Linked DNA regions of Homo sapiens: regions 2, 3, 4, 5 and 6 are each reported to be linked to region 1. The links are microRNA targets in miRTarBase. Many come from high-throughput screens and were not tested one by one. Region 1 holds a microRNA gene; each other region holds the end of a gene's coding sequence.

Region 1 (5,074 bases):
TACTATTTTATATTGTGTTTTGTTTTTAACATTATAACATGCGCATGTCCATGTTAAACATTCTTTGTAATTGTCATTGTTTCATGATGTTCTGTTGTATGGAAGTATTTTACAGATTTTCAGTATTTTAAATTATGTAATGAATATCTTTTCATTTGGTTTTTATTATTTATTTTGGGTTGTTTATCGAAGAGACTTCTAGAATTAGTTATTTGTCAAAAGATTTGAACATTATAAAGAATTGGCATATTTACTTTTCAAAAAATTAATGTCAGTTTTTGTACCCAGTCATTTAGGTACTTATAAAAAATGTTTTTGCTTTTTTTTTTTTTGCTGACTCCATATGTAAATGAATGAATGATATCTCTGTGGGGTTTTTTTGTTTTTGTTTTTTTCTGAGACAGGCTCTCCCCCTGTCGCCTAGGCTGGAGTACAGTGGCGTGATCATGGCTCACTGAAGCCTCAACTTCCAGGGCTCCAGAGATCCTCCTACCTCAGCCTCCTGAGTAGCGGGAGTACAGGTGTGTGCCACCATGTCCAGCTAATTTTTAAATTTTTTTGTAGAGATGGAGTTTTGCCATGTTGCTCAGGCTTGTCTTGAACTCCTGGGCTCAAGTGATTTTCCCACCCCGGCTTCCCAAAATGCTGGGATTACAGGGGTGAGCCACCATACCTGGCCGATATCTTTGTTTTGTGATACAGTTCTCTGATTATTAGTGAGGCTGGACTTTTAGATCTTAATTACTAGCTCTTATTTCCTTTTGTGAATTATTCAATTTGTGCCTGAATGTTATTTGTAAGTTGCAAATGTCGTTTGTTGCAGATATGCTCCCAGTAATATTTGTTGCCATTGAGTCTGAAGAAATGTTTGCAATTCCAAATATAACTGCTGTGTGGATACATGTCTGGTTCTTGGTAGCCATTTTGAGATAACATTTGTCTGACCTCTATCTTATTTTTGTTTTTATTTTTAGAGTGGAGGTCTTGCCCAGGCTGGTCTCGAACTCCTGGGCTCAAGCAATCTTTCTGCCTCCGCCTCCCAAAGTGCTGGGATTACAGGCATAAGCCACCTTACCCAGCCTTGTCTGACCTTTAAACAGAAATCCATTTCTTTTTATCTAAAAGGAAAGCACTTTTGAGTACTGTACAACAGTGGTGCTTCCTGGCTCTGGGCATGGGGAGAAGACAGGGCAACATTTTGTCCCTAATGAGAAACTAATTTAGACAAGAAACAAAACAGCGGTCCCTTCTCCCCCATCCATTCAGGGACTGGTCTTATTTTAAATATTTCTGAGTGGTCTGAGGGAGGATATGGGCAATATTGAAGTGTCCACATTTATACATACTGTTAAATGCTTTGGGGATGTGAAATGCTAATAGGAACACGCTAGCATGTGAGAAGGCACCAGGAGTGGGCTAATTGGCAGAAAGGAACAGTGTATAGGCAAGAGCAGTGAAATAACTTTAGGGGAAAATAGTATGTTAAGCTTATTAAATAACAGCCTCATAGAGACATTGGGTCCCAAAACAGTGATCTCAGTATAACTGTCAACAACTTGCTGATGTTATCAGCCCTATTTGCTGGTCAGAGACAAAAAAGCCAGTAAAAACCTAGGTATTATTAAGAAAGGTATGAGGCACAGAAAAATGCCATCTTATCTTTGTATAAAACCATCTGAACCAAATAACTATTACAGTAATAATCTTGCCTCAAGGAGTCTGTTACTATCACTCACATGATTTTGAAAAGGGAGTGGGCAGAGTGTGTTATCTCTCTGTTTCATTTTTCTTGTTTATAATACATAGGTGAATTAGATATTCTCAAAGGTCTTGGAGGGGTCTAATTCTGGTTTCCTGAAACTGAATGTTATTTCTAGTTTAGAGAATCTGTTTAATTATGTTTATTAAATAAACTTTTCTAACTTATTCCTACTCTGATCTGTATATTATCTATTTTGTATTTAATAACATTCTAACTTTTTTTTTCCAGTGAAGGATGAGGATTATTGGATTTAGAAGTGCCAAATGAGCTATTACTTACTGCTTTTTGCTATCCGGTTACACTGGGTTAATCCAGTTAGTTGTAAGCTCCCATTTTTCAGCATTTTGCTAGCTGTAGATATTAAACCAGGCTCATGTGGGTAGTAGGGTGGGGAGGTTAAGAGGAGTATAAGCAAAAAGGAAAAAAAAAAGCTCATATTTTAGAGGAGGGGATTGAGAAGTTCCTTTATTGGAAGTCTGTGCATGGAAGTCCCATTTTACATCATGCCAGTGTCTAGTTCCCAATTCCGTCTATGGCCACGGGTTAGGGAAAGCCTGAATATTTGAAATAACCGAAAAGCATTTAACCTTTGATTTCTATAATTTGTTCCTCACCTCTCTTGATGTTACAGCCAGCAGCAGCCTGGAGCAGCACCCCCTGGGAAGAAATTTTACATCGGCCATTATAATACAACCTGATAAGTGTTATAGCACTTATCAGATTGTATTGTAATTGTCTGTGTATATGCCTGTCTCTCTTCCTGTTATCAGTTAGACTGTGAGCTCCTTGAGGGCAAGGAAGGTGTCTTCATCTCCAGAGCCCAGCCTGGCACATTAGTAGGCCTCAGTAAATGTTTATTAGATGAATAAATGAATGACTCATCAGCAAACATTTATTGTGTGCCTGCTAAAGTGAGCTCCACAGGCTCTGGATTGTCAGCTGTTTCTTCAAAAAGCATGTGGTCAGAAATTTGATATTTCTGTATATATCTTCCTAAGAGTTTCTCATGAGACAATGCCATTTTTGTGTTTGGATTTCAGTCCTTGATATTTACAGATGTTGCAACTGTTGCTATTGCTGACACTTGCTTTCTTGGTGGGACTTGAGTGATAACTGTTAGATTGGGGCCTCATCCTCAGGGCCCAGGTAATCATCCAAATAGTATTCTTAGATAGGACTTTGCATTTTTCTTTCTTTTTTTTTTTTTTTTAAGGGACAGGTTCTCACTCTGTTGCCCAGGCTGGAGTGCAATGGTGCGAACACGGGTCACTGCAGCCTCGAACTCCTAGGCTCAGGTGATCTTCCACCTCAGCATTCTGAGTTAGGACTATAGGTGTGTGCCACCACCCCTGGCTAATGTTTGTATTTTTCGTAGAGAAGGGGTCTCGTTATGGTGCCCAGGCTGTTCTTGAACTCCTGGACTCAAGCGATCTACCTCCCTCAGCCTCCCAGAGTGCTGGGATTACAGGTGTGAGCCACTGCACCCAACCAGACTCCATATTCTAAACCAAGGGTGGGCAAACTTTATTGCCCATGGGCTACCTGTTTTTGTAAATACCATTCTATATTGGAACACAGCCATGTTCATTCATCGATGTTTTACCTGGGGCCGCTTTTGCGGCCCAGTGGCACAATTAAGTAGCTATTAGGTTGGTGCAAAAGTAGTTGCTGTTTTTGCCATTAAATATATTGGAGACATTGTGGCCCACAAAGCCTTTGTAGAAAAAGATCTGTGCCCACTCTGGATCATCACTCGACAGTGATGGTTTCATTTCTCATTCCATTCACCAGACCAGAAATTCATATTTATTTACTTCATTTGTCATTGCTTGTGACAAGTCTTTTTCCTCTTTTACAGATAAGCCAGCTAAGACATGTTTTAAAGTAGAAGATTATAAGACCTCCCCCAGGGTCCTGCAGTCAGTCAGTTATACCCTGCCCTTCAACATCAAGCTTTGAACCTCTACTCTAGAAATACCTTTTATTATATTCAAACTTGAAGCACGTGGACATAGCATGCTTTGGTGCCTTCGTCCTTGCCCCCCTCCTTCCTACACAGTTCTTTGCAATGAGAATATGGGAAATAAGGACTTAATGTGAGATAAGGCAGAAAGGTAAGCTGAGGCAAATGTTTAGAGGGTCCCTAACACTAATTTTTAAATGAAGAAGTGGGGTGTCTGAAATACTCATTTATTTAGATGTATACAGATAGTGAGCCTAGACTTCCAAGAGCTTAGAGCCCCTCCCCTTGTGCCTCCCCAACTTTACATGTACTATCTTGGTAACCTGCCTATGAATACATGTTGATTCATTTCACTTCATTAAAAAGTCGGAGAGCTCAAAGTCATATTTGAGAAAGCTAAATCTAAAACAAAATGGAGGAAACACTGAATAGGTTCATCTCGTTGGATAGGATCATCCTAGGAATAAAATATAATAGAAGGAAAGGTCTTACAGCCATATTTTTAAAGCTGCTTGCTGGATTTTTCCCAAAATTGTATTGTGAAAGTTGTCAAACATACATACAGAAAAGTTGAAAGAATTGTACGGTGAAAAGCCATGTACCCAACACCTAGATTTTATAATTAACATTTAACTATACAGTCATGTGTTGCTTAAAGACAGGATATGTTCTGAGTAATGGATCATTAAGTCATTTTGTTGTTGTGTGAACATCATAGGGGAGTGTACTTATACAAACCTAGATGGTATAGCTTACTACACACCTAGGCTATATGGTATAGCCTATTCCTCCTAGGCTACAAACCTGTACAGCATGTTGCTGTATTGAATACTGTAGGCATTTGGAATACAGTGGTAAGTATTTGTATATCCAAACATATCTAACATAGAAAAGGTACAGTAAAAACGTGGTGTTATTATCTTATGGGACCACCATTGTATATGCGCCTGTGACTGAAATGTTACTATAAGATTCAGGACTGTTTGTGTTATCACAGTAACTCATCTTTGTTGAATAGGTTTTAAAAATCTGTCTGTCTTCTGTGTTAATGTCATCTGTATCTGACCCATCATGGTGCTGAAAAAGCTTCTTTTCATTCTTATTTTTGTCTTCTAAGTCAGCATGAATACCAGCACAGCCCAACTATGTGTAAGCAGATCTGTGCAGGAATGAGAGTCCCAGGGAGAGAATCCACGTTGTTTCTGAAAGAAAATGGCTATAGCTCACTGTTGTTTACTGGAAATAGTAGGGGGAAGGAAAGATGGAAGTCCAGGTCCAGTGTCATATACTGCCCTGCACCTTACTCACTTCTCTGCCTTTAGGGTAGGTGGTTTTCTGAGCAGCTTCTG
Region 2 (5,074 bases), not on the chromosome of region 1:
CAGTCCATTTTGGAAGATGAGAAGCTTTTGATTTCCAAGACTCCAGTTCTCCCAGAGAGGGCAAAAGAGGAGAACGGAGGTCAGCCTCGTGCAGCCAATGTGTGTGCTGGGCAGAGCGAAGAACTGCCCCCCAAAGCTGTAGCATCAAAAACAGAGAATGAAAATCTCAACCAAATAGGACACCAGGAAAAAAAGACATCTTCTTCTGAGGAGAATGTGCGTGGCTCCTATAACTCAAGTAATAACTTCCAGCAACCTTTAACATCACGAGCAGAGGTTTGTCCTTGGGAGTTTGAGACCCCAGCTCAACCAAATGCTGGAAGAAGTGTAGCTTTACCTGCCTCTTCTGCTCTAAGTGCAAATAAGATAGCAGGGCCTAGGAAAGAAGAGATCTGGGATAGTTTTAAAGTGTAGCATCTCCAGGAAGAAGAGGAAAAGGAGGGAACCCCGGATTGGATATGAGACAGAAGATATAAGAATCAAATATTCCCAAGGAGGATTTGTCAATCAAGGAAAACATGACAGATGGTGAGGTAAAGTCAAAGGCATGGGTAGAAGAGGACCAGGGGGGCAAGAGCAACAACGTCATAATGGAGAAGTCAGACTTTGGTCAAGAAAGTCCTTCCCTTGGTAACACTAGGAAAATCTTTCCATTTCAGCATGTTTAAGGAAAATAGCCCACAATGTCTGCCCTGATCAATATGTATCCATGGGACTTTGAAGATCCTAAGCCAGGTAAACCAGGAGACACAGAAGACGTACCAGATTTGCAAAGAAAGAAAAGGTATAAGACATATATAACTGAAATTCTAAGTAGCTGACCGAGAAGAACTTACTTTACCTATTTAACCTTGATAGCACTGCTAACTTAATGCATCCCAAAAATATCTTTTATATTAATGATTGCTCTCATTTTCTTATAAATGTATGTTTCAGTATATCGTTGTGTCTCATATTCAAGCATTCCAGATTGTATAATTTTTGCAAATAACTTTGGTATTATGTGACACAACACATTTATGCAATCTGCAGCTATTCAATTGTTATTGCACCTTACAGAATACCTGCTATCTATCAACTTTAGTTGATTCTTGAAGTACAGTAAGCTTTCTCTGGCTTGGGAAGCCATAACTGTTACTATAAAAACTTTTAGTTTTGGCTGTGGTTTATATATTGTGACTTTGAATTTGACTCTATTATTTCACATCATGGTTTGTTATACTGTCTTAATCAGGGTTTTTTATACAAGTTGAGTTACTTGTTTTGCACTTCTTGTTAGGACTCAGAAGCTTTATTAATATTGGAGATCAAGTGGTCCTACTTAGTCATATGTCTCAATAAGTTAAGGACAACTTATCCGTTGTTTATTCAAAGTCAGAGATAGATAACGCCTTCATTCCAATTAATTGTCCCTTTTAACTCTTTCAGTATTTCCTACTTAGCAGCATTTCCAAAGGAAGAAGCTAAGAGTGAGAAAAATATACCGTGCATTATTATTACTATTGGAAAGGGAAGACTCTAGGGATGACATAAGAATTATAGCAGTACTATAAACCCAGGAAGTTTGCCTTTCAAAAAAAAACACAGGTAGCTCCTGATAGCACTTTCAAGGGATTATTTTTTTAAAGAGAAAAATTATGGTAGCATCAAGATCATTGTATGGATATATTTTTATTATGTGTACTGAAAATACAGTATTTTAAAATACCTTAAAGTATTTATTCTCATAAACTCTTATTCATTGCTTCAGCTACAGGTAGAACTTGCTGGGCTCAAATCCCAAAGAGGTTTTATAACCTTATTTATTCAAAACCTATAAGGTGGTATGGAATCTTCATTCTCCCAAGCACTGGAAAATGTCTAAGTCCTGCAAATTGCCATTGTGAGCCACTTGCTCGACATGTAACATGTAAGGTCCATTTGCAAAGCAAAGCAGCCCCCAAAGCATATTTTATAAAGCTTATTGCATTCCACACTGATCTCTTGGCATGGGAATCCTAAGCTGCCGACTAAGCCCTACCGACATGATCATGCAGTGAGATTCCAAAGCTCAGTCTCATTTCATTTAAAGAAGAATCACTCAGAAATAGAACCGAGACTTCCCTTTTTCTCCCTGTAAACACCCAAGTATCAACTGCTTATTTGGCCAGGACACTCCCAGCACAAATAACTATTTTTTATGTCACAAGCAGCAAGGAGGACATGCTAGGGTGATAAAAGATGGAGAAACAGGATCAGAGGGTGGATATAGGGCTGTTCTTAGAGAGTATTTTCAGTGGAAGGTAAAAACAGAATTCTCCATATTCATCATCAAATTTTTCTCAGTGATTTTTTTATTCAGGAGTAAGCAAGCACTTCACTGTTTCACAAAGCTGTGCGCAAATCTTCCTCACCCATTTGCTGACTTTATGCATTACTCAGGTTGGTGGGGTCGGTTTGAGAAGATATAGAAATTCTATTTTTGTGTCTTTACACCATTTATTTCTTTTATCTCTTCCTTTTCAATGAAGGCCTATATGCTTGGTGACCTCCTTTAAGGAATCTTTGTGAACTGGGTTGGAAGTTCCTAGACCCACATATTTGTTTCATTTATGTCTGAAATCTGTTAGCACTTGATTCCTTTCTTGAGAATTATGCAGTCAAGCATCAGTGACTTTCTATTGCACTTCAGGATTGATCCTGCTAGAGATGTGAGTTAAAAAGACTTGCCAAATTATATCTTAGCGACATTCTATAGTTCATAGATTATTCTCCACCAGCATAAATCAGTGAGAGTGCCTAGAGTCTTTCTGAGAGTTTCATTGCCATTATCAACAAGAGAAGTTGAAATTTACAAGTCAGGAGGTTATTTTTCCAGATTGATAACCATAGAAAGTGAATAAACACTTTTAAGGTCGCAAACATTTGCTAGGTTGTCCTTCTCAATGCATGTGCAGGCTGCATCCTGTCCTTGTTTTTAAGCCAGGGTTTATAAATAAGTAGATTTATACCAATCTTAATAGAATTGTATATTTTATGCAAGAATTAAATGCTTTACAACATGAAGTATAACTCAACCCATTGTAAACTTTGGTGGCAATATGGATTTGAAACTCGACAGTTCTCTTGTATTTGCTTCCTAGGTTTCTGCATGCAAGTTATGACAGGTAGGACTGAAAAAACACTGCCTTTTGACTTCTAGCATTTAGCAACCGAGAGTCGTAGAGTCAATAAAGCTGTAAGTGTCTTCACTTAATCTGTGGTTCTCCTAAAACTATTATCTGAAACCTACAGCATCCCACCATGAAATATTTGGTAAATTTATGTTGTGACGTGTTGCAGCATGTAAATAATTATAACTTCTCTGCAATAAAACATATTTATATGAAAGTGATTTGTGGGGATTTGTGTGTTCATCTATAGAAAACTGAATTTATTTTGTCCAACTTTAAAAGAAATTCCATATATTTGTTTGGCTCTGGTATCCTTGTGCACATACATCCTCATATTGCCAGTCTATAGGAATATGTGATTAGCCAAATGTGGCCTCAAACACACAGGTAATCATTTGGAGGCAATCAAAACTATTTGTGGTTTTCATTTAAGAAGTCTCTTCCCAAATGGGAACTAACTCAGCTACCTTTTTTCTTTGCTTGTTTACTCCACACACAGTACCAGGAAATCTGCTAAGGAGTGATGATACAAAGATAAACAACCCCTTCAGGAACACTCAGGCCCATGAGAGTATCCAGTCACTGGTATAACAATATGCAGATGAGCATAACTAAGGTCAGGGAAGTCTCACTAGAGAGTTCAGGGTCACCAGGCCGAAAATCTGCAAAGGCAACAAACAGGTATCAAAGGGAAACTGTTGTAAGGCTGGAGAAGTAACTGAGCACAGACTGCACGCCACGCTTCAGGTTAACTGCAGCTTCATCCTGGAGCACTGGAAGCTATTGGGAAGCTTTTAAAAGTGGCATAATGAAGTCAAAAATTAGATCATTTTGGAAGCAGCCCTGAAATGAACTGAAACGGGAAGGGACTAGAGGCAGCTAAAAACGATTAGTGTGAGAGGCATGATGAGAGAAGATGAGAGCCTAAAGAGGAGATGGAAAGATTCGTGTTTATTTCATCAAAATCACATCTCCAATTGGGTTTACTATTTTATTATAAGCATGTGAAATGGGAAAAATCAGGTTACTTTAGATAACTGTCAAATACAAATTTTTTTCTGAGTTTATTGACATTTTGGCTAATTTCAAAAGCCTCGAAAGCCCTTTCTGAAGACTGGTAGACCTCATATCATCTGTTCACGAGAAAAGCTGATGAACAGGATCCCAGGTTCCTGCTATGGGAAAGCTTGGTACTAAACTGGGCTGGGAAAGATGGCGCTTGGGGCATGTGCAATGTGGACTGAAGTTTCTACCAGCTCAGAAGAGCTCTAGAAAGACAACCAGGCCTGAAAAGAGGGAAGGGGAGAGAGCTGGTCCCCCACCTTATCCCTGCACCCCTCTTTCTTTGGATGAAGCACAGCAACTACCTTTTCCCATCTGCTCATACCATTGCCACTTACAGAATTTTCAGTTATTGCTGGACTTGCCTAGTTGACCTGTGTCTGGCTATATTATTTTTTCATATATATTGTTTCTTTGTTCTAAATTTAGAATCTTTCTGCTAAAAAAATACCTAAGGGAAATCAGAAATAGGCTTTATCACATAAAAACTAATAATGAAAATCTGGTGTCCTAAAACAATGCAAGTTAGTTAAGATTTTCTTATATCAGCATATTCCATCTTTTCCCCCTGAATAGTTGTAAAGACAGCAATCAAGTCTTTCTAATTTGGGTTGTTTTCTCTTTAAACATTTTGATTCTTAGAAAGTACAAGGGCAAAGTTCAAGCATCTTGTGTGTTCTAATTCAGCGTTAACTGGCTAGAAGGCAGATAATGAAATGTATGAATTGGTTTTTAATTTCCCTCTCTTTCCCTGTGATGTGAAAATTGCCAGAAATAAAACTGTCTGATCAAATGAACATGGAAAATAAGGGATAAATATAGGAAGAGGCCTGTGCTGCACAGCAGTCACATTCCTAGAA
Region 3 (5,074 bases), not on the chromosome of region 1:
CTTCATGTAAATGAAAACCTATACATGATGTAAATTTACTAAGAGTTTTCCTTTTATTATTAGGATGACATAAGTTTGTACTGTATTTCTATTAGACATTCCATCAGTCACTTTCTCTTAAATACTTTGAAACTTCATTATAAGGTAAAGTTGTAAAAACAGTTCTTGTTTCATTTCTAATCTATTAACTAGGAAGAAATAGTAATTATATAAGTGATATATGTTCAGATAGGTTAAATAAATCTAGGTCCCAGATACAGAAACTTAACAATGCAGTTTCGAAACGTGTTAAATTTTAAATTGTTAAATTTCTTAATAAAATTATTGATTTACTCGAATATTTTTAGTTGGTTAAAGCATTCACATAGAATTATTTGCTAAGAGGTAAAAAGTCAATTCCACTTACATCATAATGTATAGTATCATAACCTAATAAGGATTTTTTTCTTGTTTTTTACAGATTGATGAAGATCCCTGCCTCATTCCTGAAGCAACACAAGGAGGTACCTACAATTTTGATCCAACAGCCAACCTTCAAACAAAAGAATTTAATTTTTAAATTCAGTTGAGTGCAGCATCTTTCCCACATTCAATATGAAGCACCACCAGATGGCTACCAAATGATAAGAACAACAGCAACAAAAGGCTCCAAAACACACATGCCTCTTTGTTTTGATGCTTCTAAAGCAAGCCATGTCTCAGTCACTTTGCAGTTGCCAAAAGTCACTATCACATGGACTGTAAATGCATATGCATGATTTCCTAAACTGTTTTAGAACTCTCCTTAACAATCTCAACTACCCTATTTTTCCCTGTTCCCTGGTGCCACAGGCTGACAACTGCAGTCTCCAGTTTAGAATAAATATTCCATAGTGGTGACATGTCAGCTGCCCACTGATACTCCTTTGGAAAATGGTGCGCTGTGGATCAAGACACTTTGGTATGATGCATATACAAGTTGGAAGACTAAAGAGGTGCAGTGTGATCTGAGCCTCCATCATTGTCCTCCACAAACATATTTTCATATTCTTTATGTGGAAGAATAGATTTTAAAGTACAAGCCAAATGATTTTCATTGGTGGAACTGACACAAAAAAAGTAACTTAAAAACAAGAAACTTGGTTATTGAATAAACAGATAAGTTTAAAAAAAAAAAAAAACTACTTCATCTACCAGTAATTGATGTGTTTATTATCTGCCTCAGAAGCCAGGGTTGGAGGAAGAACTTTAGATATGGATATTAATGCTTTTGCCATTATACCTAATTTTTGAGAACAGCAAGCCCTATTTGACCACTCTCTTCAGCCTGTGTGTTCCTGCTGTTTTGAAGTAATCAAATGCTGTGCATGGTATTTTACCTGAGCTGCAACCTGTTATGGACTTGAACTTCTGTTTAAGTTGAAAGCAAGAGTCCCTGAGTATAAAGGAAAAACAGCAAAACAAAAAGCAAACAAAAAAAAACTGCAAAAGTCTAAAATACCCATTGGTGATGTTTTTTAAAAAAATCTTGCTTTCAGCTTTCAGGAGTTAATATTCTTTGTTTTAATTTGATAATTGGATATGGTTGATTTATATTGGGTTTAAACTGTGGAGCTTTCATGTTTACTGTAATTTAGTCTTAAAATATTTTTTACTTAGTAACCAGTGCTTTTGATAATGTGGTTGGCAACAAACCAGCAACTATTTAGAAGTGTCATAAGAGTTCATTCTTTGAGTATTGGGAAAGTTAATTCAGATCCTACTCAAAAAGCATCTTCACATATTAAAAGATTCAGACAGGGATCTGTGTAGAGGAGTAATTTGCAGTTATTTAACATAAACCTGATTTGCAGTGATCTCTAAGTAATTCTGCAAAATCCGGTATTACTATGTCAAGTTATTGCTTTTGGTAAATTGTCTGACCCAGTTATTAATGAAAGAATATGGATTTAAAAATTTTTAAACTAAATAATTTGTGCTGTCACAGAAATGGTATTGTTGCTCTTGTTTACTGGGTATAATTTCCCAATGCATTGATGTGAAGGGATAGAAAATCTAAACTAATTTAGTTATCCATTGGGGGGTGTATTTACTGTGATGAAGATGAGACAGATGCCATCAGAGCTTTGTGAATCAGCTGGGGTGTTTTCACTGATAAACAACACATAGCAGGTGTGCATTCATTACAAATATATGTATCTGCCAAGGTGGAGCCACTTTAAAGAGTGAGTTTTGTCTTGTATCTAAAGTGGATACAAGCGTATGTTTAAACTGCAAGATTTTTACTTGCTAGAGAATCTGTTTTAATATAGTGGTTTGGCCTCTGATTATTTATAGGTTTTATAAATTTTAGAATCAATTTCTCTTTAAGGTGGCTCAGATTTTTCAACTCTTGTGCACATAAAATTGAGTTGAAGTTCATTGTGCCTTTTTTTCTTTATCCAAATTTTGAGTTAAAGCTTCATATGGTAACTGCATCCTGTTCGGACACTATAGTCTAAATTTTTGAAACTGTGTGGTGTTCGCTAAAAGTAGGAATAACAACGTAAAAGCTAATTAAGGTCACAAACTTCGGTGAAACCCTTAAAAGTCCAAATCTTCTTGATATTGTGAACCGTACCCCTTCCAGTTTAGTTTCTTCTGGACTTTCCTTACTTAACTGACAGTTACCTTTTAAAATTTGCACACATTATGATTAAAATTGGGCCTCTACTGTGATGATTCCTATTTCCTCTCATGTTTTAAAGTGCAAACTAACATTTAAGTGAACATTAGCATCAAGTAGTGCAGACACTTGTATGCATTTCCTTGATTCAATTTGTGACCTTACCAGTTTTGAATTGGAATTGCACCATTTCGTAGATAAAGGAAACTAAGTATATTGCTGCACTTTTAAGTTTTCAAAACAGTGTTTAAAAATTGCATTGTTATTTTTTTTTAAACTCAGTTTAAAAAGACTAAAACGTTCTTTCAAAAGAGGCATCTAAATGTGTTCCTAATTTTGTATATGGGCTTAGGTTTTGTAACCAATAAAAAAAGCTGCTATCAAATATGATAAAACATTGAAAACTTATTTCTGAAAATAACTTGTTTGTTTTCTGTATGGTTAAATTTAAATTTGGAATTATTTTTTTAAAAATCACAATGGAGGTAAATCATGAATTACTCTTTTACTGTATTTTAATATCTCCTTCACACCATATTACTGAACTAAACTGGAGTCTGTTCACCTGGCACAGTTAGGCCAAACATTCATAGCAAGGTTTTGCAGCAGGAAAAAGGAGGGCATTTATCTGCAGGCAGGGCACCAAACAAGAAAAATGAGGCAGCTCACACTTAAGACCCAACTTCCCTCATGGCTTTACAAGCAAGGGTTTTTAAAGGCAGGGGTGAATTTCAGGAAAGCATAAATTACAGGCAGAATTGTACATCAGTACACAATGGTTTGGCCTAGAAAGGTGGGCTGTCTTGAAGCCGAGGGTGGCAGGGGGTGACTTATAGGTCATAGGTGAATTCACAGATTTTCTTATTTGCAGTTGATTAAGGAATCAAAGCTTTGTCAAAAAACTTGGGGTCAGCAGAAAAGAATGCTAAGTCTGCCCCATGGGCGTGACTTCCTATAGGCCCCTCAGGAAGACATTTAGAACAAAGAATGGCAGTCAGAGCTCAGTCCTCAGTTCCCCCTTCCCTGGCCAGTGGACCATTTGGTGGGGGTCCAGGTGTCTGAAGAACAACTCAGGGACATATGTTAAGATGTTATCTTTAGTTTCTATAAGGAACCAAACATCCTGTGACTTCCTTGGCTGTTGTTTTAAGCTACTATTACTCTCTTGCTTATCAAGTTTCTTATTTATTCATAGGGCTAGCTAGGTGCCTGGAATTTCCCTTGAAGGAACTCAAAATTTTCCTTTATTTCCATGCTTGGTGGGGCACCTGGCAGGCCCTTAAGAGGGGTTCCTCTTCCATCTCAACTCTAACAAACCAGGATGATCGATAATAATGCTAGATTTGAGACTATTCTGTGACAAATAAGAATTGCCAAAATCTATATTAGTTTCCTAAGCTGCCATTACAAAGTACCACAAACCAGGTGGTTTCAGACAATAGAAATGTATTGTCATCCACTTCTGGAGACCAGAAGTCTGAAATCAAGGTGATGACTGAGCCATGCTCTGTCTGGGGACTTCGATGGGGATGATCCTTCCTTGCCTCTTCCTAGCTTCTGGTGGTTCCTGGCAATCCTTGGCATTCCTTGGCTTGTAGCTGCATCACTCCAGTCTCTGCCTCCGTCATCACATGGCATTCTCCCTATGTGTCTCAGGTTTAAATACTATAACTTAGAAAAAGTCCATTTATTTGAGATGATGGTATGATTGTGACTGATGAAACAAAAACTCAAACTTTAAGACCTGGCTACCCCTTGAAAACATGTAACTATGGAAAATAGTAATCAGAGCAAACCTAAAAGTTTTAACCTGTTAGGTAAAGTTTATGGCACTAAATGAAATCTTGCATTAACTAAAAGAACAAAGGAGCAGCCAAACTTTTGAGTATAGAAATGTTTACTTTTGTATAATGCCACTGCAAATTACTTTTAAAAGAAGTTGGTGTATAAGTAAATGTGATAGTACTCATACAATCTTGCCATCATTTCTTTCAGAAGGGTCATCCTGAAGGGCGTGGTTGGTGGCAGACACCTGTAGCTCCAGCTACTTGGGAGGCTGAGTCAGGAGGATCACTTGAGCCCAGGAGTTTGGGAGCAGCCTGGGCAACATAGCAAGACCCCATCTTTAAAAAAATTCTATTTTTATATGAAAAGAAAATTTTTTAAGAAGCGTCATTCATCCTTTTCAGGGGATTAGTTAATGCGGATAAACAAGTAAACAAGAGCACCTGACATTCATGAATGTCCGTTGTCTTACAGTGATGGTTAATTTTTTAAACCCTAGTTAAACTGGGAAAGTTTACTTAACTCTTTTTGGGGGAAAGGAAATATAATTTCTGTATATGAAGCTGTGAGTATAAATGTTGTTTAGATAGCTAAAAAACAGTGATAGAATGATTCTCCAAAAGTGCTATATACAATGTGTGGGAA
Region 4 (5,074 bases), not on the chromosome of region 1:
ATAAACAAAAAAGTCAGTTTGTCAAGGAAATGAAACCCTTCTGAAAATTGGTGAATGCAGTCCTGTCAGAGATTTAGATTTTTGAAGATGCTGATACATAGAAGATTGGAAGACATGAATATCTTAAATGTTAACTACTTTTAATTCATTGGTCTAAGACTCAGTGTTAACTGTCATGTATAAGATTTTATTATTTGTTTTATGTTGCTTCTGTATATACCTTGAGGTGTTTAAGAAAATATCTTGTTTCAAACTGGGATTGAAGGAAGTTATCTGCAGTCTTTAAAAAAAAATTCTTAGAATAATTAAGAGAAATCATTATTATTGTACCAAGCCTGTGGTTAAGAAGAAATATTTATATTTTTTCTTTCTTTCTTTCTTTTTTTTTTTTTTTTTTTGACAGGGTTGTTACAAGTTGAGTTGAAAACAAGAAAAACTTGCTTTTGGCGCCATCAAAAAGGAAAGCCAGATACTTTCCTTTCTACAATTGAAGCCATTTACTACTTTCTGGTAGACTACCATACTGATATATTAAAAGAGAAATACAGAGGGCAATATGACAATCTTTTATTTTTCTATTCTTTTATGTACCAGTTGATAAAGAATGCCAAATGCTCTGGAGATAAGGAAACAGGAAAACTTACACATTAGTTTTTAACAAGCCACTTATGTCTTTTTATTTTGCTAACATTAATAAACTTATATTTGTGCTTTGTTTTTTCTTAAGAAATAATCATATATAATGCCTGTAAGACCATTTGAAAAAATTCCAGTTTCATATATATCACTTCATATTTCTTGAAGGAAATTGTATCTGGGGGAATTTTTCAGAGATACTGTTGATTGAAAAACTTACTTCAGAAGTTATTTGCTCAGTGAAACCTCAGTTTCATTACTACATTTTAATATAGTGTGTTATGTCTCTGTGATTAGATATAACATATTCCATTAGATCTAATTAGCTATTTATTTCAACATCTTTATATCTTTTCACCTGTACTCATGACCACCTTTAGAAGTAAATGGGGTTACAATCTGCTGGCTGAAAAATAGGTCATAAGTGATTTTTCTTGAGGTTAGTAGCAAACATAGGCAGAACTAGAATTAGAATTCTGGTATCTAGGGCTGTTTCTTTAAGTCCTAAGGTTGTTAAAAGCAGAGACTCTGGAGCTAGACTACCTGAATCTAAATCTCAGCCTTTCTGCTTATCAGCCATGTCATTTTCTTCCATTTGTACAAAGCAGGCAATACTGAGCAACTACCTTATAGGAATAACTGAGTTAATATCTAAGGGGCTTTCAGCAGTACCTGAAATATAGTAAGTGTTACATATATGTTTACTCTTTTTATTTTATTTGGAATTGTGAACTGATAATAATTGAAGCCTACCTGCTAGTGGCCATCTCTGCTGCCAGGTGAAAAGAGCCTGACTTAGAATGAAGTCAGCGAAGGAAAGCAGAGTGGAGAGAAAAAGAGAGACTGAGTCCTGATGACATCATTTATTTACCTAGACCTAGCTGCTTGTGAATAGAGCCCTACTGTGCTGAATAGCTTCTGTCTGCTCTTTTCTATTCTGCTCCCTGCTCTGTGAGGTAGGTTCCTTTGCTCTCTTGCTTTTGGTTGGGTTCAACAAATGGGAAGCACCAGTGGGAGATTAGAAGTTGAGAGGAAAATGAAATGATGTTATTTATTTCCCTGGCTCCTTTCCTGCCATGTCATCATCAGTTGGCTGTGTTCCTCTACTAAATAGTACCTTATCAGGAATCCTATCTCTTCTGTTCCCAAGCAGTTACCCCAGTTACCTCACTAGGTTTAGTTCCTGCTCCCTCCCTTTACCCCTTTTCACTTAGGGTTGGTAATAGCTTACAGTTATTACTAGCCCCAGTATAGTTCACTACAACTTGTTGCTTTACCTAAACCCTGCTCATACATTTGTAAATACTGTAGTTGTTTTATTACACTCTTCTCAAATGTCCCCACTTGAAATAGCCTTCTATTTCTTTTGGGGACTCTGATAAATTCACCTGTTTGGGTGAAATAATAGCACATTTCCTGAAGTATATACAGTGGGACACATGATGTTTTATGGGGGAAAGAGTTCTTGGTGAAATTAGTTTGCTGTACATTACGTTGTTTCCCTCCCAGGGATTCAGAAGGCAAAACATATTAAAGGTTCTGAAAAGTCCTGAAATAAACATTTTGAACTTTATTTAAGCTGATATATCTTAAACTTACTTGAATATGTAGCACCTATTAACATGCCATGGAAATAGGACGTTTGGAGTATTGTAATTAAGAACAATTCCTATTAATATACATGGGGCAACTGAGAATTAAAGAGGTAAGTAAATTATTGATAGATCATACACCTAGTTAGTAGCAGAGCCTGTTCTAGAATCTGGAACTTCTGATTTGGTTTGGTTCAGTAAGGTCACCATTATATTATGCTATTCATAAAAAGGAATGTGGATTATATAAGGCTTGAACATTATTAGTCTTACAGTCTTAGCCAAATAAACTAACTGGCTTGCTTATTTTAGCAGTTATTCTACAAGAATGGAATTAAAATAGATTTTTTTTTTCATGTTTAGAACTTGGCCCTGGGAATAGAGGAAGGCTTGAATTGATTTAAGCAGGGCCAAAGTTGGATTTCTCTAGGCTAAATTTGGACTTCCCTGAGCCAAAATCTATTGCATTTAACTGGCTTTACAAACCAACTAAACATAACAGTTCAGAGGGAAAAGAAAAAAAAAAGCGAGAGACAGAGAACAATTCTATCACTCATTTGCCTCCATCTCTCAGCTGGCATAAGAAAGATGACCCACGTACTTCATAAGAGCCTAATTTACAGCTAAGGCCAGATAAAATCTCAGGTTCTTTTCAAAAGAAGTTAGTAATACCTATTAGAACAATGAATTGACTATACTTGTCTTAGTTTTTTTTGTTTGTTTTTTGTTTTTTGTTTTTTTGGTGTGATAGATGTAACAGTGGCCCTAATTCTTTATCCTTGCTTGTATTCATGGTCATTTTTCAGGTTCCTTTGAAGTACTCCCCCCACTGTGATTCTGGGTCATCTGCATTCAGAGATTTAGTGCATTTTTACTTACACTTGTGCTTCTGCTGTTGACATAAGAATATGCATGGCTGAGTTAGCCTGCTGGAGCATGAGACTCCATGGAACAGAGCCAGGTTGCCCTGGTCACCCTCACTGAATCTTGTCTAGATTGGCTGATGGCCAGCCAAACCCAAGATATGTGAATGATTCCAGCCAAGATCAGCAGAGTCATCTAACTGACACCTACCTGATTCCAAACATGTGAGCAAGGAATGTCTATTATGCCACCAATGTCTTATAGCTATTTATTGTGGCTATAGATATCTCATCTTTGGATGCATTATCAGATCATCTTCTTCAAGTACCTTAGAAGATTCTCAGTCTCATGTTTCTTGGGCTCTTGACCACTTGCTTTGCCTTAGCTACCACCTCATATAGTAACAGATTACCAGCAGGTTTGTATGATTCCTCTGCTTGAGATCAATTAGCCATATGTTCAGAATCCCTGGCCTATAACAACACTTCTGTGCTTTAAAAACCCCATGCCACAATGACTGTTAAAAGGGCTAGGCGATGTAGTCTGGTAGGTTTGTGAAGTTAACTGTCTGAAAAACTTGGATCAATGGACTAGAAAAAGCTGCTGGGTAAATTGCTCTTCTTCTGATGGACTGTATAGAGACACTGTTTTTCATCTTGCCTGTCCAGAAGCGTACTCTGTGGCCAAGCAAGTGTACTTGCCACATGATTGGCAGTGTCTCTTCATGGCTTTTCATGAAACAGCAGCAAGTGCTACACAGTAATTTATCAGTTTGCATTTGCCTCCCATTATTGCCAGCCTCACTTCCTTTCTTCCTCGCTCTTACCAGCCTGGATTGTACCTTTAATAAAGTAGTGGATATATTTCCTTTAGGGTCTCTTTTTCTAGGGAAGTCAGGTGTTTTAGTCTGGATTTAGTTAGAAAAGCAGCATCGTTACAAGTATTACATGAATAAAGAAGTTTAGTAAAGAAATTAAGGTTTACCCCAATGTGAGAATTACTGGGGTAATAAAGGTCTGGAAGGCTGCAGCAGAAGAGATTTAGAGAAGCAGTGACTAACTAGGTCAGCCGGAGATTCTCAAAGTACTCATGACTTCATTTGTAGAAACATGTATATCTTAAGCATATCAAGTGTCTCATTCCTCTAATCTTTCTAGGAGCCCTTTGGTTCATCCTGAAGGTCCCCCTAAATCCCTTCAGAAGTCTTAAAAAGGAGTAAATGGCCACACCTTTTATTTGTTCTTTTCTTTGAGGCCATGTTAATGGCAGTCCCTTGATTTGGTCTTTGTACTAGGCTGTTTTTAATGATCACATTTTATTTGATGAGAAACAATTTTATTTTCTAGTTCTGCATATCCTAGGTTATGTATTTCATTTCAGTTCCATTTCCATACCCATTGCCTTAATTTTGAGCTTGTCTGTTTCTTACATTTCTCATTTTGACAGAATAAGCTGACTGTTATTAAGTACAATAGATAAGGTACCTAAGAGCCTCGAAACATCACCAAATACCATGAATGCATTAGGTATATTTTTTGTCTTCCATGTTACTGGAAGCATTAATTATAGCAACTTTTTATCTCCAAATACTGACAATTAAAAGACCCTAGTGAAAACTTTAACCAAACACTTACTGACCCTACATTGAAGGCCACCAGCCAAAAATCACCACCCATACATAAGAGCCAAACATCACTAGACACTTGGTGAAATCCTTCAAATATAAAAGGGGAAAAGGAGGGGAGAAAATCCAAAGGAAATAGACAAACGGAGAATAATGGCAACAAAAAAAAAACTGTCTTCAAAATAAGAGTATATTATATTCACAAAACAAGAATAGGAGAGTGTGAAAAAGAACAAGCAATAAAAAAGATCTCAGAAATTTAAAAAGTGATTGCTGAAATAAAAATTAAATATAAGAGTTGAAGATAAAATATAGCATAAGAATAGAAAATTCTGAATTCCAAATACCTAAGGCCAAT
Region 5 (5,074 bases), not on the chromosome of region 1:
TTTTCTAATTTTTCTAAAAATAGAGCCATGCCTGTCCTATCTGCTTCACAGAATTGCTAATAAGATTTAGATTAAATGAAATTACAGATGGGAAAGCTGAAAAATATGTATGAATATTAGTTTTGTAAAAGGTTTATCCTACAAAAAGGGTTTCTGCTCTTTGTCCCTTGCCCTCTGGACTCATAAGTCTTCTGTTCTTTTCTCCAGGTTACCTGTGCATGACAGATGAGTGGTTCTCTGAGTATGTCTACGAAGTGGTGGTGGACAGGAAGCATGTCCCTGAAGAGGTGCTAGCTGTGTTAGAGCAGGAACCCATTATCCTGCCAGCATGGGACCCCATGGGAGCTTTGGCTGAGTGATACTGCCCTCCAGCTCTTTCCTCCTTCCATGGAACCTGACGTAGCTGCAAAGGACAGATCCAGGGACTGAAGCCAAAGTTATGCAAGGGACTGTGTGTTGCCACAGGACACAGTCAGATTTCCAGTCTCCACCAGGAACCTCTTCAGAAAGTGTGCTTTATGCTGAAACAGAATACTGTTAAAGGAAAAAAAAGAGGGGGGAAGATCAGGTCATACTATCTACTCTCCTCATCTCTAACAGCTCAGGATCTCTTAGCATTTTAATTAGATGTAATTGTTTGTCTTTAACTGTCAAAAAGTTTGGTTCTGTGTCTGTGTTTTAATAAGACGAGAGGACGAGCGATTGAGGTGTATGGAGAGAAAACAGACCTAATGCTCCTTGTTCCTAGAGTAGAGTGGAGGGAGGGTGGCCTAAGAGTTGAGCTCTCGGAACTGCATGCTGCTGGACAGTATCACTGTCTTTCCTAGATGGCAGTCACTGAATTCCATTTTTTCAAGGTAATTTCTTGTGCCTCTAATAGCCCAAGAATGGGAGGTTGATCAGATCTGACATGATTCCTTCCTGTTCTGAACTGTGGGGTGTGCACATCTCTGCTTGAGTCAGGTTTGAGTAGAGGCTTAGAGACAGTTGGGTGAGAACAACCAAAATCTTATCATGGTCTCAGTCATAATCATTAGGGGGAACTCTAGCCAAATGGTTTAACTTCTGCCTGTGGAACTGGGGATTGGGTGGGCAGGAAAAGGTGATATCCATTCTTTCTGATAACTAGATGGTGCTGAGAAGCTTTTGAATAAAAACTTTGCTAAATGAGAATAAGCTGATTTATGTGATCTGTCTGAGAAGTGTTTGTTTATCTACAAAAGAAAGCAGCCAGGTGGCTCATGTTCTTGAAAGTGAAAAAACAGGAAAAGGGCTTCCCTCTTCAGCTTCTCTGCAAGATGTGTACTCTTTCCCAGACCGCCGATTCTCACCGGCATCTGCAAAGGGCTTCCAAGCGCCTGTTTAAGAAGGACTGTTCCCCTACCGCATAAATGTTCTACCCAGATCCAGGGTCCCTACAAGGGTGGGGAGTGAGGCTCTGTTGGGCCCAGCCTTAGAATAGGTCAGTAAGTTATCTTACTGAGATTGGGCCACCCTTTCAAGAACAAGGGTAAAATAGAAAACATTTTCACAAAAAAAACTGAATTTGCCCCAACAGAAGGGAAGTGATCAGTATGGAAGGGTTGAAATGTATCAAGGAATGTAGAATAAAGAACATGATTGTTATGTTGGTCAGCTACACAAAAAGCAACTGTAGAAGAGTCTTAACAGGGTTGGAAAAAAGGTAAAACGAAAATCCATGAAGGTAGCAGATAACTAGGGAGGGGAGGTAATTGGAATGAACATACTCTAAGATCCTTGTGTCTTTCAGGAAGAAGATAAATACATTGTTTAACTTCAGACTTTGGTATGTAAACCTGTGCCAAAAACTTCTATAGTATCTACTAAAAATAAGCAGAGGATACAGTTTTCAATCAAGAATAAATAGAATGGAAAAATGCAATCAGTCAAGAAGACAAGATAGGGTAAAGAAAAGGCAGGACAAATAGAGCATCCAAAACAAGATAGTAGAGAGAAATCTAAATGTGCCAATAATTATATGTAAATGGACTAAATGTTCCCGAAAAAAAAAATGCCAAACTGTATTTTTAAAAGAAATCCAGCCATATGTGATGACAAGAGAGAGACATAGGCAACCTACAATATAAGAAAGGATGGAAAAGATACATCAGGCAGATACTAACCAAAATAAAACTGAGAAGTTATACTCATAACCCACAGAATTAAGGCCACTCCAAAGTAACGAAACAGACTGTCTAATTTCAGTTTATTTGCATAAACTGTAATGTGAATGTCCTCCCTGGAGCTGTGGAACACCACAGCCCTGGAAATAGGCTTTAAGACAAAAAGCATTACTACAGATCGAACCACTACATAATGATATGCTTACCCAATTCTTCAGAAAAACAAAGATTCTAAGTTATGCACCTAATAACATTGCCTCAAAATATGTAAAACAAAAACAGCTATATGGAAAAATAAGAAATCCAGCATCATAGTGGGAGATTTTAATATGCTTCATGTAGACCAAGCAACAAAAAATTCAGGAAAGTATATAAGAGATTTAAACATTTAGCAAGTTTGGTAAAATGGACGTGTTTAGAAGACCACATCTTCATCCTGAAAGCACAGATGTGTGGAAACCAATGACCGAGCATAAACCTGTTAAAAAAAAAATTGCATCTAACAACTGCACATTCATTTTGATCACCTATGGAACTTTTTCAAAAAGCGACCATATACTGGACGGTAGAGTCAATCTCAACAAATTTGAAAGGGTTGTTACCACGTAGACCACACTCCAACCACAGTGCAATTAAGTTAGAAACCAAAATTAAAAGATTACAAGACGACCTCTGTATGTTTAGAAATTAACTCATGGGTCCAAGAAGAAATCATGAAGGAAATTTAACCTGAACAATAATAAAAATATGTCAAAACGAGGGATGCAGCTGCAACAGTAATTTAAAGGTTTTACAGCATTAAATTATTACATTAATGTATTAAGATTATAGAATTTTAATTAGTTCTGAATAATAGAATGTAAATTCTAAATCTAAATATCAAAGTTATACTAGGATGTAATAAAGGCTGAAAATTGAGCTAAACATCTGTTTCAAGAAATTAGAACAGCAAAATAAACCTAAAGGAAGTAGATATGCACAGAAATTAAGCATAGCATCAACGAAGCCAGAAGTTGGTTCTTTTAAAGAAAAATTGACAAATATTAATTTTTTTAAGTACACAGGGAATTAAAAGGATATTATAGATGCTGCAAATATTAGAAAAATAGAAGATACTCTCAACTTTCTCAAAAGCAACAGTAAAGGGATTTGTTTAGAAGACAAATCCACAAGCTCGGGAAGACCAGGAGAGGAGCCAATGAAATATTTGAACCCAGAAAGCAGATGGAGACCTTGGAAGATTTAGCAGAGCTGAAAAAGTTGAATCTCACTGAGCCAGTGGTGGAGAAAGCCAGTGATAAGCAAATCAATTTACAGTGCATAATCCCCTGAAAAGCATAGATATGGTAGCAACAGAAAGCATTCTGGAATTGGGCGTGAAGGGAGGGTTACCAAAGAGTTGAATGTCTGTTGGGTCCCCTTCCTATACCGACCGGCTTGGTGATGCCCTTCCTCCATTCATCAGTGCATTAGAGATTTCTTTTCTGGAGAGAGAAGAAGTGTGTAGTCTAGGTGTCAGGTGAATCCCCTAAGTGAGCATTTACATTCTGAATCTTCTTGCCATCCTTGGCTGCTAGAACTCTAGTAGCCAGGAAATTGGAAGTCTTCTCAGGAGCAACTCGATTAGCTCAATAGGCAAGACGTAAAAAACGACTTTATGGCCTAAAGAATGATTTTATGAGGCTAGCATAACCCTGATAAGGATAGTGAAAAAAATACATGTAAACCTCACCCATAAACATAGATGCAAAAATCCTAAACCAAATGCAGCAATATGTAAAAAAGATAATCTTCATTACCAAATACTTAATGAAAGCCATTTTTCAAATGAACTTAGGATCCAGAGGGGAGAAATGAAGCATGGTGGTTTTATCTTCTCTGCTAAAGATTAGGGAAATGGGCTGAAGTTGTAGCTGGAGGTCTCAGTTGGAAGAAACTGCTAGTATTTGGGTGACGAATGAGGTAGGAAATGGGAAGGCATGGAGTTGTCTTTTGCTTTAACTGTGAATCATACAGTGTCACCAGAGGAGAGCTTCATGACTGGCCTCTGGGAAGTCCTGGCCTGAGTAATGGTGACCCTACACGTCCAAGAAGCCAAGGCATGATAATGAGACATGCCTTCAGGATGTGGTGTGGCCCATCTGCTTGCTTTGGCTTGTCCTTAAAGAGCAGCTTAATTCTAAGTTGCTGTTGGTGGCACCAGGGCACTTGGACTTGAAGTCCTATTCCTCTAGTGTGGTGTGGGTGAGCACCATTGCCCACGGTGGCTCTAGTTAGTCATTTGTTAAGTTAGATACTTTTTAAAGTGATTCCAGATGAGCGTGGTCATATTTAGGACAACTTGTTGAGAACTGTTGTTGATACTCATGAAGCCAATGGCTTCCTTCTTGGGGTCTGTGACACAAATGGGTTGAAAACTAGGATTAAACTGGCCGGGTTTTTCTGTTTTTCTTTTTCAAACTCCAAGTCCTTTACACATTATTGCAGAGGGAAAGGAAATAGGGGAATGTTCAATTCACAACAGCTGCAGCTATTTGGTCTTTGTTTTGTCTTTTCTTTTGAGTCTCATTCTGTCACCCAAGCTGGAGTGCAGAGTACAGTGGCACGATCTCGGCTCACTGCAGCCTCCACTTCGTGGGTTCAAGCAATTCTCCCACCTTAGCCTCCAGAGTAGCTGGGATTACAGACATGCGCCACCACAGCTAATTTTTTTTTTTTTTTTGTATTTTTAGTATAGACAAGGTTTTGCCATGTTGGCCAGGCTGGTCTTGAACTCCTGGCCTCAATTGATCTGCCCGCCTAGGCCTCCCAAAGTGCTGGTATTACAAGTGTGAGCCACTGCGTCTGGCTAGCTGTAGCTATTTGGAAAGAGGATTGTGTGCAGATGGGAAACCCTCCACATCATCTTTCCTGGATATTGTTTGAATACT
Region 6 (5,074 bases), not on the chromosome of region 1:
AGGGAAACACAGTCTCAAAGAGAGAGAGAGAGAGAGAGAGAGAGAGAGAGAGAGAGTAGGATGCTGGGATTTCCTGATCTTCCTCTTGTTTGTCTGTGTCTGTCTATCTTACTTTTCAGACCTAAAAAAAAGGACAGTGCTGTGAAGCCAGACAGGTGAGTCTTTTGGACTCCAGCTGAGTAGGGGTATGGGGAGTACAAGTGAGTCCAGAAGCTGTTGCTCCTCTTTCTCCTCCCACCCGTCCCCCACTTTCCCTTTTCCTCTGCTCCCCAAGCCTGTGTTCTCTGCCCCGACCCCAGCTCTAGGGAAGACTCTTCCTTCCCACCCCAGACATGTCGCTTCTCCTCCCTAGGGCTGCCACTCCCCACCACCGTCCCCAGCCCCGTTCTGTTCCGGGCTGGGACTCTGCCCCCGGAGCACCCTCCCCAGCTGACATCACCCATCCCACTCCAGCCCCAGGCCCCTCTGCCCACGCTGCACCCAGCACCACCAGCGCCCTGACCCCCGGACCTGCCGCTGCCGCTGCCGACGCCGCAGCTTCCTCCGTTGCCAAGGGCGGGGCTTAGAGCTCAACCCAGACACCTGCAGGTGAGGCGTCTGTGGGGTGGTGTTTGTTTGGGAAGGCACCAAGGCCCTGTCCTGGAGCAGGTCCAGGGTGAGCCTGCCAGTAGGAGGAGGGCCAGGGAAGGGGAAACTGTTGAATGTGTTGAACAAATATTTACCAAACAGCTGCTGGCACCTGGAGCTGTATAAGCAAGTCCAACATTCTAACTCAGGAGTCAGATACAGGAGGGACAATGCCAGCAGAGGATGTCAAGGGCTGTGGTGAGGGGTACCTGGCCTCGTCTTTCAGAGGTCAGAGATCTCTTGGAGGAGGTGACATCTGCCCGGAGTAGAAATGTAGGACACAGCTTTTCCAGCTTGCAGTTCGGGCCTTCCCAGAAGCCCCTGTGGTAGACATCTGCCCTTACCTACGGGCTTCAAGAGGCCAGGGGACATAGTGGAACCCTTGTCCACCCTTACCTGATGTGTTTCTCACCATCCGTGTCCCGCAGTGAGGCCATGGGGTGAAATCATATGGGCAGGGCCAGTGGGGGCTCCCGAGGAGTGTCAGGAGGGGATGACCTTTGCAAAAGGTTCATCCTTCGCCCTGCAGCCTCCAGTGCCCAGGGCCGAGTGGTGTGGCAGGATGCTCAGGTTGTGATCTTAGTGGGCCCGAGGCACACATGAGTCCAGGGCTGGGGCTGCGCTCCAGCCAGCATGAACAGATCACTTCCTCCCTCCTCAGGTGCCGGAAGCTGCGAAGGTGACACATGGCTTTTCAGACTCAGCAGGGTGACTTGCCTCAGAGGCTATATCCCAGTGGGGGAACAAAGAGGAGCCTGGTAAAAAACAGCCAAGCCCCCAAGACCTCAGCCCAGGCAGAAGCTGCTCTAGGACCTGGGCCTCTCAGAGGGCTCTTCTGCCATCCCTTGTCTCCCTGAGGCCATCATCAAACAGGACAGAGTTGGAAGAGGAGACTGGGAGGCAGCAAGAGGGGTCACATACCAGCTCAGGGGAGAATGGAGTACTGTCTCAGTTTCTAACCACTCTGTGCAAGTAAGCATCTTACAACTGGCTCTTCCTCCCCTCACTAAGAAGACCCAAACCTCTGCATAATGGGATTTGGGCTTTGGTACAAGAACTGTGACCCCCAACCCTGATAAAAGAGATGGAAGGAGCTGTCCCTGCCTGTGTCACTGTTTGTCACTGTCCAGGCTGGCTGGTTTGGGCATGAATGTCTGCATCACTAAATCCAGAGCTTGTCTTGCTCCCTCATTGTGCAGATGGAGGAAATGAGGACTAAGGCCCCACAGCAGATCCCAGGCAGGGCCAGAATTATGTATTCATCACTTTCAAGTTATTGCCACGCATGGGAGTCAGGGATAGCCCAGTCAATACAGACTGCCTGCCCTCCTGCTCTTCACCAGGGTTCTTTTCTAGAAGGAGACAGCCTTCTGTGGCCAGAGAGCTTGGGGTAGGACCCAGATCTACTGAGTGACCTTGCTTGTCACTACCCCTGCCTCTCTGAGCAGCAGTTTCCACATGTGCACATAGAGGGAACAGAAGATTGCTGTGGTTGGCGTCCTCGGGCCCCAGAGAAGTTTGAGACTATCTTTACGTAATAGAAAAGAACACTTGTTCTTCCTGCCAGGCAGCGCTTTCAGCATCTGCTGCTTTTTGTTCCCTGCAGCTTGAATCTAAAGCCTCAGCACCTGCCCTGTCTTAACTTCACTCCCACCTCCCTGAAAGGGAAGCACCGCAAGTCTGGGGCTGGTGGGCCTGGTTTGGGCGGCAGGCTCCCCTCAACCCAACCCACAGTTTTTTGTTTTTTTTTTTGTTTTTGGACAGAGTCTCACTCTGTCACCCAGGCTGGAGTGCAATGGCACAATCTCCACTCACTGCAACCTCCATCTCCTGGGTTCAAGCGATTCTCCTGCCTCAGTCTCCCAAGTAGCTAGGATTACAGGTGCCCACCACCATGCCCAGCTAATTTTTGCATTTTTAGTAGAGACGGGTTTCACCATGTTGGCCAGGCTGGTCTCGAACTCCTGACCTTGGGTGAACCACCTGCCTCAGCCTCCCAAAGTGCTGAGATTAGAGGCGTGAGCCACCGCGCCCGCCCAACCCACACAGTTTTCTCCACCCTCGCCTCCCTTGCATCCTGCAGCTTCCTTCATCATCAGTTGCTGCCTGAGATTCTCCTGACTTGTCTATCCTAGCCCAAGCCCAGCCCCTACCCTTCTCCCTGCAGCCTCCAGTGCCCAGGGCTGAGTGGTTTGGGGTGGATGAAAGGCCAACCTTGGGCACCACTGCTTTGCCTGCTGAAGCAGGACATTCAGGGGCAGAGTTAACTCAATTGGGCAGCCACTGGGAGGGGCAGCCACCCTAATGGAGGCTTTCTCTGAGGTGTTGGGTCAGAGCATGTGGGTATGATCTTAGTGGGCCTAAGGCAGGAGTGGGTTGAACCAGGAGACAATTCCTGACAGCGATTACTACTTTCAAATCATTTTCTCAGTCATGATGTCACTGGACATGCCATAGGTCAATTAGCATGAGGCAGAAAGGGGTTAGGGCCCCAGAGCTACCGCCTCCAGAGCCCAGTTAGCCCCACCAGTCACGCACAATGCTTCACATGCACCTCCTCACTTTCTCCTCGCTCGATTCTGAGGTCAGCATCATGATTGTCTTCCTTTTACAATTGAGGAAATAGGCTCAGAAAGGCTAACTGGCCGGGGGGATTTGACCTCAACTCAGCTGTCTCCCTAACCTTCAACCTAGGTTTAGCTGCCTCTCAACTGCAGGTTCATTACTTCAGTTGACAGATGTTTGGTGGCTGCTGGGGCGCCTGAAAATAAGTCTGGTGGGGGAACAGGCCCAGCCAGATCATTCCAGTCATGAGTCACAGCCCAGGTGCACAGGTAGAGGTAAGCCTGGCTCCTGGGAGAGAGATGTGGGCAGGAGCATTGGCTGGAAGCCAGGGCTTGTCATTGGACATCATCTCGGTCCTGCAGGGGCCCTGTGGGGTGGGTGTCATCAAGCCCGTGTTACACGCCTGTATTGGATGACAAATTCTACCAAGCACACAGCCGACCGGGAGTTCAAACGTGAGTGTCACTGTGAAGCCCAGGCTCCACAGCGACTGAGGGCCGTGGGCCATGATGAGGCCCGGGAAAACAGGAGTGCTGTGGGAGAGGCTGGGGGCGACTTGAAATGGCGCCTCAAGACCCCCTCCGGGAACCCACGCCCGCCTGACCTTACTATCACCTCGGCCGGAAGTGTCTCCGGCCTTTTCGGAAGTCACTTTCACCTAACCTTACAGACTACCGCTCCGCCGGAAGTGACGCAGGGCAGCGGCGTCGCGGGGGCGGGGCTCGGGAAAGACCCGTGCCAGCGGGCGTGTGGCCGCGGGTTTCGCACGGTCCAATAAGGGAGGGCGGCGTGGCCCGGCCTGGTAGCGACGAGGACGCGCCTGCGCAGAGGCGGCAGCACCACCGGGGTTGACTCCGGGGGCGCGGCGAGGAGGTGAGCGGGGGCCACAGCCCGGGCTGGGGGGAGCCGGGGTGCAAGAGGGCAGGCTGGATCAGGCCGGGCAGAAGCGGACCGGGCTCCGAGTGTCAACGAGAGCTAGGTGACGAGGAAATTGGGGGTGGGGGCCGGAGCTGTCCGGAGATGCCGCAGGGGGAGGGTTCTCACGCCGCACGGGGCGGAGTCCTGGGACTCGGGGCGGGACGTGGAACCGGGACGGGTGGGACCTCCGAGCTGGTGCCAGTGGAAGGCGGAGCCCGGCGGCGGGGGGCGGAGCTAGGAGGGTCGGGGGACGGAGCCTGGCTCTTGAAGGAGGAGCTGGAGGAGGTGAAAGGCGGAGCCTCGGGGTCGGAAGCAGAGGGGGACGGAGCGGAGGCGCTGGGGGCGGGGCTTCAGCCGGTGAGTGGCGTGGCTACGGCTCCGGAAAAGGGGTCTAGTTCTGTCGAAGGCGGGGCTGCAGGCCCGGGGGCGGTACCGCGTCCTCCGAAGGGCGGTGCCAAGGAGCCAAGTGAGGAGCCTGGCCCGAGTAATGGCCCCGGGCGTCCTCGCGGGGGTGGTCTCCGTGGTGGCCGGGCTTGGGGACGCCGTAGGCCGAGAACTCCACCGGGAGAGGTGGTGTGGGTGGAGCGGGCTCGGCGGCCAGCAGACACAGGGCCAGTCTGGGTGCCCCGGAGACCCCCAAGGGCTCAGAGTTGGGGCGGCGCCCCGGGCGGAAGCACAGGGCCAGGCTGGGGGGTATCTCCCGAGGACCCGGGCTCCTCGGAGCCACCCAGTGGGGATGTGTGGGTGCCTCGGGGCCGGCCCCCTGCAGCGGCCGCAGAGGTGTTGGTGTGCTGGACCGGGGGCAGCTGGGTGTGGCGTGAGTGGGGCCGCCCAGTCGGGGCAACTGCAGTGCAGCCAGATAGGGTCTGGACTTTGCGTAAAGGGACAGGCGGGAACTGAAGAGCGGAGGTGGGGACTGGGAGGGAGGGAAGGTATGGGGGTGAGCAAAGGGGCGGGTCCCTGG

The links. Region 1 holds the annotated microRNA hsa-miR-374a-3p (CUUAUCAGAUUGUAUUGUAAUU, at 2,475-2,496, shown strand). A microRNA usually pairs through its seed, bases 2 to 8, with sites in the 3' UTR of a target mRNA and lowers its output. Matches are read on the target gene's strand: a 7mer-m8 pairs with bases 2 to 8, a 7mer-A1 pairs with bases 2 to 7 and ends in A, and an 8mer does both.
Region 2: miRTarBase lists GPR158 as a target of hsa-miR-374a-3p. Seed matches in the 3' UTR shown: 7mer-A1 at 2,212-2,218.
Region 3: miRTarBase lists KPNA3 as a target of hsa-miR-374a-3p. Seed matches in the 3' UTR shown: 8mer at 2,131-2,138 and 7mer-A1 at 3,032-3,038.
Region 4: the mRNA of DTWD1 is a reported target of hsa-miR-374a-3p. Seed matches in the 3' UTR shown: 7mer-m8 at 1,369-1,375 and 8mer at 2,012-2,019.
Region 5: the mRNA of BLMH is a reported target of hsa-miR-374a-3p. Seed matches in the 3' UTR shown: 7mer-m8 at 1,119-1,125.
Region 6: the mRNA of VEGFB is a reported target of hsa-miR-374a-3p. Seed matches in the 3' UTR shown: 8mer at 1,700-1,707.

The regions. Positions count from the first base shown.
Region 1 is chrX:74,284,717-74,289,790 of GRCh38, reverse strand. MIR374A (microRNA 374a) reads left to right here and starts at 2,434; the gene lies at 2,434-2,505. All of the region lies in intron 1 of FTX (FTX transcript, XIST regulator), which reads left to right. It overlaps MIR545 (microRNA 545), which reads left to right and starts at 2,582; the gene lies at 2,582-2,687. LOC124905199 (a long non-coding RNA gene) reads left to right here. Exons shown (of 2, transcript XR_007068266.1): 2 at 1-1,926.
Region 2 is chr10:25,598,861-25,603,934 of GRCh38, forward strand. GPR158 (G protein-coupled receptor 158) reads left to right here. Exons shown (of 11, transcript NM_020752.3): 11 at 1-3,369. The coding sequence ends at 414. Among named protein-coding and RNA genes, the nearest start is that of LINC00836, 50 kb to the right of the region's middle.
Region 3 is chr13:49,697,285-49,702,358 of GRCh38, reverse strand. It overlaps KPNA3 (karyopherin subunit alpha 3), which reads left to right. Exons shown (of 17, transcript NM_002267.4): 17 at 461-3,039. The coding sequence ends at 559. Among named protein-coding and RNA genes, the nearest start is that of EBPL, 8.3 kb to the right of the region's middle.
Region 4 is chr15:49,642,928-49,648,001 of GRCh38, forward strand. DTWD1 (DTW motif tRNA-uridine aminocarboxypropyltransferase 1) reads left to right here. Exons shown (of 5, transcript NM_001144955.2): 5 at 404-5,074. The coding sequence ends at 651. Among named protein-coding and RNA genes, the nearest start is that of DTWD1, 24 kb to the left of the region's middle.
Region 5 is chr17:30,244,302-30,249,375 of GRCh38, reverse strand. It overlaps BLMH (bleomycin hydrolase), which reads left to right. Exons shown (of 12, transcript NM_000386.4): 12 at 208-1,173. The coding sequence ends at 359. All of the region lies in intron 2 of LOC105371720 (a long non-coding RNA gene), which reads right to left. Among named protein-coding and RNA genes, the nearest start is that of SLC6A4, 11 kb to the right of the region's middle. RefSeq lists an enhancer at 1-919.
Region 6 is chr11:64,237,068-64,242,141 of GRCh38, forward strand. VEGFB (vascular endothelial growth factor B) reads left to right here. Exons shown (of 7, transcript NM_003377.5): 5 at 120-155; 6 at 353-588; 7 at 1,289-2,197. The coding sequence ends at 566. FKBP2 (FKBP prolyl isomerase 2) reads left to right here and starts at 4,028. Exons shown (of 6, transcript NM_004470.4): 1 at 4,028-4,065. It overlaps LOC114841035, which reads left to right and starts at 4,028. Exons shown (of 6, transcript NM_001370414.1): 1 at 4,028-5,074. The coding sequence starts at 4,213. The coding sequence ends at 5,010. RefSeq lists enhancers at 3,035-3,937, 3,437-3,496, 3,537-3,656, 3,938-4,838 and silencers at 3,937-4,956, 4,987-5,074.